2 linked regions of the Homo sapiens genome follow. The protein of the gene in region 2 purifies or fractionates together with the protein of the main gene of each other region. This does not show direct contact. Each region holds a gene or a part of one and is shown on either strand. Other genes may lie near its edges. The genes, in order: SLC7A11 and IL17RD.

The links.
Region 1: the proteins of IL17RD (region 2) and SLC7A11 fractionate together in Homo sapiens (co-fractionation; one large-scale study listed by BioGRID). This does not show direct contact.

Annotation. Positions count from the first base shown.
Region 1 is NC_000004.12:138,166,409-138,169,603, forward strand, and holds part of SLC7A11 (cystine/glutamate transporter), read right to left. Parts: 3' UTR 1-3,195. UniProt on the Homo sapiens protein: Heterodimer with SLC3A2, that functions as an antiporter by mediating the exchange of extracellular anionic L-cystine and intracellular L-glutamate across the cellular plasma membrane.
Region 2 is NC_000003.12:57,162,395-57,166,747, reverse strand, and holds the start of IL17RD (interleukin-17 receptor D isoform a precursor), read left to right. Parts: upstream 1-1,394; 5' UTR 1,395-1,461; coding exon 1,462-1,587; exon of another isoform or gene 1,588-1,780; coding exon of another isoform or gene 1,781-1,822; intron 1,823-4,353. UniProt on the Homo sapiens protein: Feedback inhibitor of fibroblast growth factor mediated Ras-MAPK signaling and ERK activation. Regulates the nuclear ERK signaling pathway by spatially blocking nuclear translocation of activated ERK without inhibiting cytoplasmic phosphorylation of ERK.

The sequences.
Region 1 (3,195 bases), on a different chromosome or scaffold from region 2:
GATACCTGTGCATTACTCTTTTTTTCCCCTCTGGCTTTCAGCACGGCCTTCTGAGGCTTTAACAAGAGGTAATAAGGACTTAGCAAGCAGTTCTCCTAACCAATACATTAATTCACTTGAAAGTCATACTTTTAAAAAAAATCAGTAGTGTATATGTTGAGGAAAAAAAGCATGTTCACTCTGGAACAAAGTTGGCCCTCTATGGCTCTCAGATGCCTAATGCTCTACAGTTTTGTGAGAGAATTGTTAACTGTAAAGCTGTAAAGGCGGTTATTGGTACTATAAATGTACACTTGATTCAAGTACGCTGAAACACACACATGTAACAGCTATTAGGACACTGTAACCGTCCTCTGTGTATTTTAAGGCCAATAGTAACAGAGAGGAGGGAAAAAAATAACTACCAAGAAAATAAAACTAATGGGTAGATTCACACTAAGAAAATCTAGGTAATTATATAAATTCATTGTTATGAGGTTGTAGAAAGGACAGTTATCTCACGACATATGGAAAATTGGTGAATTTCCTGTGAGACTATGATTTATGCTTTTGTGAATGTATACCTGATCTAAAATTAGACAAAACATTTATTTTTAGACACCAACTAATTGGAAAATATAAGGAAAGAAATAATTATCTCCCAAAATTGACTATTAAAAAATAATTTTTAAGTACAGTACTAATAAACTAAGGATGACCTAGAGAGCATACCTTTAGCTATTATTTAAAAATCTTTTTTTTTTTTTTTTTTTTTTTTTGAGATGAAGTCTCGCGCTCTTGTCCCCTAGGCTGGAGTGCAATGATGCGATCTTGGCTAACTGCAGCTTCTGCCCCTTGGGTTCAAGTGATTCTCCTGCCTCAGCCTCCCGAGTAGCTGGGATTACAGGCGCCTGCCACCACGCCCGGCTAATTTTTATATTTTTAGTTGAGACAGGGTTTCACCATGTTGGCCAGGCTGATCTCGAACTCCTGACCTCAGGTGATTCGCCCGCCTCAGCCTCCCAAAGTGCTGGGATTACAGGCATGAGCCACCGTGCCGGACCTATTTAAAAATCTTTTTGAAGTACAGTACTAATAAACTAAGGACTACCTAGAGATCACACTTTTAGATATTATCTATTTTAACATAGATTAAAAATACTGTTTATATGAAAATTAAGCTTAAATACACGTATAGGTAATAATTATTTTGCCCATATACAAGTAATGTAAACAGAGGCTATCAAGGTGACCCATTATCTACTCTAATTTATATCCACTATGAGCTTCTTCCCAGTTGTTATACAATGCCATATTTTAATTCCTGACTGAATGGTTAGGAAAGCAAAATGTAACTCTGTAAACTTGATCAGCACTAATGTACAACATATTATGGAGGGTAAAGTGAAGCAAGAATATATTCAAGTAAAATAAAATGTCTTTCATGGGCATTCAAATCCCACATCTCTCTATATTTCTTTCCCAACTAAGAGCTATAATTAAAATCCCATTTATTATTTTTCTATAGTTCAGAATCAACGTATAAAATATGATGAAAGTGAAACTATCTCCCTATATATCACATCATATATATTGTGAGAAAGTCACTTGTTATATATGGATATTTCAATTAACTCATAAATTTTTAAAAACATATCCTCCATACTTATTTCTAACAGAAAAAAATAACAGGAATTATTTTACTTTACTCACATGGACAATGCAGATTTTGTGGGGGTAGAAGTGTACACAACTTTGCTGGTCTTCTTCAACAAAATTAGTACAGAATTCCTAATACAAAGTTAGGTTCAGGACCTCGAATGGAACATGTCTAAGTGAGAGGCACTGAAGCTTAGGTTTCATTAGCTTCCTGCGAGATCCACCTATGCACAGCAAACAACTAATTTTTAATATTTCTCTGACTATATTGCATAACATTAAAATATTGTTACCTTCAGTCCATACTATCTTTCATTTCCTGATTCTCTGGCCTTCGGTTTTTTATCTTTTCATACCTTATACCTCAATTACAAAAGATCAACTTTAACAAAGGTCAGAGTTGCTCCCTTTCTTAGCAGTATATTCATCTGCAAATCAAGATAAAATAATGATTTTCCTGTAGACTGATTACAGTTCATGAGGAATTCTGTTATGTAATTATACTCTTGTTAACCCTCTATTGATATGTCAAATTGTAATTGGGGAAACAATTTTACCAGACACATAAGACGAACAGGAAATCTGTTTCAACGTGAATATCTTAGTGTTGGAGAAACCGTCATGCATTGCTAACGTAACCTAATAAGCTGTCCAAATTTTGTGTCCACAGGGCTGAGGAGCTACAGTCTAAATGCATACGCATGTTGGGAACCGAAGTCAGCCATCTTCCCTAGGACAAATCTTTACTCTTCTAAAGAAGGACAAGAATAAGGTCTACTTTCAGCTAACCATTTATAAGGTTCAGTTTTCATTGGATCAAAGGAATATAATCTAATACTTTTTAAATGGGGTCAAAACAGTATTATAAGGAAAATATTTACTGCAAATATTTATAATTGTGTAAGGAGAATCATTCTTTTTAAAATCAAGTTGTGTTTTAGCTTTAGAATCTTTTAAAATCACAAGTATTTGAGAATCCATCCCCACAAAAATTAAAAAATACTATATTAGTTATTTTAAACAGTATTCATTACTTTTACTGTTTATGTTATAATAAACTTATGTATATAAACATTTGAATATGCATGGTACAAAGTACAAGTACAGAACATGTAGTAAGTAGTATGTGCATGTATGTGTGTGTGTGCATATCGTATAAAAATATGAGAAAAATTTTACTTATATAAAAACATATATATAAATAAGTGTTCAGGAGAGTTTTTGAGAATCTGCTTTACATACTGCAATTTTGAGTGAAAATTATGGATATTAATTTCCTGATTAAAGGAACTGTGTCTTCTCATGATGAGTCCTAAAAATAAGCCAAAATACTACTTAATCTCCATCACTTTTTTTCTTAATTACTGGCTGACTTTTTTTCTGCGTGAAATGGCATTACAATGGCAGGGAAATTTAATAATGCAAAAATCACTTTTGAAAATGAGAAAGAATAATTCTAGTTACCTTTTAAATTGATACTTTTAAAGAGAAATTCAAATCAAAAATAAATAAATTAAAGTCTGAGACCAATTTGCCACTGTGAATATAAGCACATTA
Region 2 (4,353 bases):
AAGGCTGGGGCTGGGGGGAGTTCTGTGCAGCAGGAGCCAGGTGGTAAAGACAGAGTGGAAGAGAAAGCCAGTATGGATTTTATTCTAAATGGCCTTTGCATAAGAGCCACCATAGAACAGTTTTATTTATTGATTTTATTTTTATTAATCCTCCTCCAAACACAGAACACATAATTTTACTGTTTTTTTTTGTTGGTGGTGGTGGTGGTAGGTTTGTTTGTTTGTTTGTTTGTTTGTTTGTTTTTAGAGACAGGGTCTTACTGTGTCACTCAGGCTTCAGTGCGGTTGGCAGGATCATAGCTCACTGTTACCTCTAACTCCTGAACTCAAGCGATCCTCTAGGATTGGCCACTGCACTCAGCCTAGAGTTTTAATTGGGATAAGTCAGTAGTCTGATTTGTGTTTTTGGAAGATAACTTTGGATCCAGGCTGGAGAAATGTATCGGACACGGGGACAAAGTCAGAAGTAGAAAAAGCCCTTAGGAAGAGGAGGTGGTATTCTTGAGGAAGGGGGTAGTGGAGAGGGACAAAGTGGGAGAGTTTAGGTGCTCAGATAAAAGGCAAAGCGCTGGGAAGAGTGCGGTGAAACTCTGGATAGCTTGGGCTACTCCACTTCTCTGAGCCTCAGTTTCCTCTTCCAAACAGAAATAATATCCACTTCATGAGGTTATGTTTGACAAGTGTAGTAGCTGAGAGTATTGTTTTTAGTCAGGTCTGGATTGGATCTCAGGTCTGGCAGGTAACAGCTGTGTGACCTTATGAGAGTCAGTTAATGATAGATTGTAGCCTTTATGGAGCACTTGTTATGTTTCAACCAACAGAACTCTCCCCAGACTAGGATACTTATTCTAGCTTCCAGGAGGGTGAGGGGGACGGGGGGTTGTGGTGAGGAAGTATTGTGGAGACAGCAAGCCTTTTGTCCAAAGTCCTACTAGTAAATGTGGAGCCAGGATTTCTCTGTCACGTTCCCCTAACTTTTCTGCGCCTAAAACTGGGATAACAATAATACACTTCCTTGTGTGGTTGGGCGTATACAGAAAGGGGTCTGGCACATAGCAGGTGTTTATTAAATTATTATTAAAATTATTATTATTACATTCTTTGTGTTTTCCTCAGGTTTTGCATAGAGTGAGCATCACTTGGACAAATCCTTTGGATTAAAAAAAGATCTACTAAGTGAGGGGGAAGAAACTGCGGCTGCCAGAGTCTCAGTGGGGGCTTGGGGGGCGTGACCAGAGGGGCGTGGTCTACGGGGGCAGGGCCACAACTGGAGGGCCAGGCTGTGGGGGCGGGGCCAGCACACGAGGACTGAGGGTGGGGGCGGGGCCCGGGCTGGCAACGCATGCCCAGTGCGGTCCCCTTCGCTGCCGCCGCGGCCGCCGCGGCCACCGCCCACTCGGGGCTGGCCAGCGGCGGGCGGCCGGGGCGCAGAGAACGGCCTGGCTGGGCGAGCGCACGGCCATGGCCCCGTGGCTGCAGCTCTGCTCCGTCTTCTTTACGGTCAACGCCTGCCTCAACGGCTCGCAGCTGGCTGTGGCCGCTGGCGGGTCCGGCCGCGCGCGGGGCGCCGACACCTGTGGCTGGAGGGTAAGGCGAGGGCGGCGGGTTTCTTGCCGTCGCCAACTCGCGGGGGACGCAGCGCGCACAGGTGCTCGCGGGGAGGCGAGCCCGCGCCAACCTGTCTGCTCTTCGCGGGGTCCGCGGCCGGCCTGGGTCTCACTCCTCCCGCGCATCCTCCTGGTTTCCCTCCCCGGACGCGTGTCCTCCGGCCCTGGCCGAGATGAAAGCGGCTGCCCGACCCCGGCTTTGTGTTGCTAATGAGGTGCGGCCGCCGGCCGGGGTCCCATTCAGAGGGCGGGCGTGAGGGGCGGCGGGGCTGGGCCGGGCGCCCCACCCTTTGTTCTTGGCCCGGGACCTCCTTCGTCCCAGGGCTGCGTGTCCCGGGCTGGGATCCCCCGAGCCACCCGGACCGGGTTGCGCTTTGGAGAGGGAAGGGGGTATTCTCCCGGACTTTCAGTCCACAACCCTGCTAAGGCCCGGGCGGCCGGAGAGGGGACTTGGAGCACCGGGGAGGGATGCGCCCCGCTCTTCTAGTAGCTTTGTTCCTCCTCGCCTGGGGCCGTCACCCCACTCCTACCCCTCCTCTGACTCCGGGACCTCCTGAGAAACTTCGCCTCCCGGTTCAGCCCTTCGTCTTGTGAAGGTCTCGCGGCTGATATCCTCCTTCCCTGCTTCGAGTTGCGGATATTTTTCCGCCAAAGGGCCGCGTGGGTGTCATCTGGGTGAGGTGCCTGAGACGAGACTGGAGAGGTGCCCAGACTTTCGCCGTGTGCATTGAGCCGTCTTCGTGGAACCGAGCGCTCCTTTGACACTGTCTGGGCGATGGGCGCGGGTGATTGCCATTCCCCTCTCAGCTTCCCTGCTCCCTACCTGGGCTTCTGGCCTTGGGCGGCCCCAGAACCTGGAGATGATGTCCGTCTGCCCCGAGTCTCCCACCGAGGCCCGGGTGGGCCCGGCGTCAGGGCACTCACGGCCTTAAGCTTGTGGAGAAAACGTAGGCTTTGCACTCAGGCAGCAGGGACATGACCTTGGCTCTGCTCCTGGGGAGCCATGAGCCTCAATTTCTTCATATGAAAAATGGGATGAAATGAGAATTTCCTTAGTATTGCTGGGCTGAGGGATAGGTATGGAGTGGTTTGCTTAGGCGAACGTTGACTCAGCCTCTTCTGGGTGGCTCTAAACAGCCTCAGCACAGCCAAAACCTAGGACATAACACTCCCTTAGGCACGCAGGCTGGTGCCTCCAAGCTCACTTGCCCCACAGTCCCAAGAAATGTGGTGCAGAAAACCAGGTGTGAGCCAGACAGCTGGGATGTCTTCAGACTCAGTAGCTAAGCTATGGAGACGGCTATGACCCCTGCTCTGCCTCCGCCCCCGCCACCCCCTTCCCCCCCCGCCCCCCCGCCCCATTAGGCTCTGTCATTCCTTCCTAGTTGAGTAAAGCATCACATTTTCTTACTGTGTTCCATTTCAGTAAAACATTACTGCTCTTGTTTTATTGTTTAAAAAAATTTTAGTAGCTAGCAAGTTTCCTCAAGGAGGATCTCGTGTTGACTTAAGGATCCTACTAGAATTTTGGATTTAGACTCCTATTGGCTTTTGAATGACTACAATATCACAGGCGTTTTATTTTGAGTGTTCATGTGATGGCGTAGGTAAATCAGTCCGATTCACTGTTTTGCTGCAGTTGCCAAGGTGGCTTCTTATGCCACTGTACAAAACTCGTGAAGTTTCCATGCTGTGGGGTATGGTAGTGCCCTGACGGAGCCAGGCTGGTGATTTTCTTCTACCTGTGCGAGTGTGTTCTCCTCTCCCAAACCTGCACCCTCATAAAATGGTGGCTCTGTCCCAGTCACCTCACACTTATGCTGACGTTTTCTCCACCACAGCCCCTAGTTGGGGGTGACTTTTCTCAGCTGCTCCTGCCTTGGCCCCACCAATCGTTTCCTTGGGTCATCCTCATTCGCCTCCTGGACGATCGTAGAGGCCTCTGGGCCATGTTCCAGATTCCAGGCTCATCCAGGCTGATACATGGTTCCTTGTCTCCTGGATTTGCTGCTTGGTGGATTTCATGGACCCAGTTTCCCCACATGCTTTGCATTCCCACCCTTTCCAGCCTCACCCCCTACCCTTCTCATCCTGCTCCTAACTCCGGATGGATGCCCTCTGTGCTTCCAAGACATGCTTTTCCCTCCTCCCAGGATGCCTTTTCCTCCCTTGAGAATTCCTTGCCTATCTTAAGACTCAGTTCAGGTGGTACCTCCTCAGGGAAGCCCTCCTGAATGCCATGCCCCTTGCTTTACCTTCTCATGCAGGTCCTTGCACTTTAGTCTCATCAGACAGCTTTGTCAGTATTTGTTCACTTCTATGTCTTCAGACTAGTTTCTTTAGCCAGGCACTGAACCTCATCTTGGTGGCGTCAGAGCCCTGTAAATATTGGCTGAACCAAATTAGACCCTGCTGCCTTCCTGCTAAATCCTGTATTTCCTGATAGATTTTAAGAAGTAGAGGCAAAGATCAGGGCATCAAGGTCCATTGTCTTTGCACATGCTGTTCCTGCCTGTGTTCCTTTACACCTCTGCAGCTTCCTTTCTCGGCCCTAGCATCACTTCTGCAAAAAATTGTCCCTGTCCACACCTCCCTAGGTCATGTCTTCTAGAAGTTGCTCTGTCAGGGAGTCAGCTAGGAAGTACTGGTACACAGTGACTAGAGTATTTGATTCATGTTTGGGTCCCCTACCAAATAAGAGGTACTTAGTCCATAGATGTTGGCCTCAGCTCTAAGGTTGCTTACA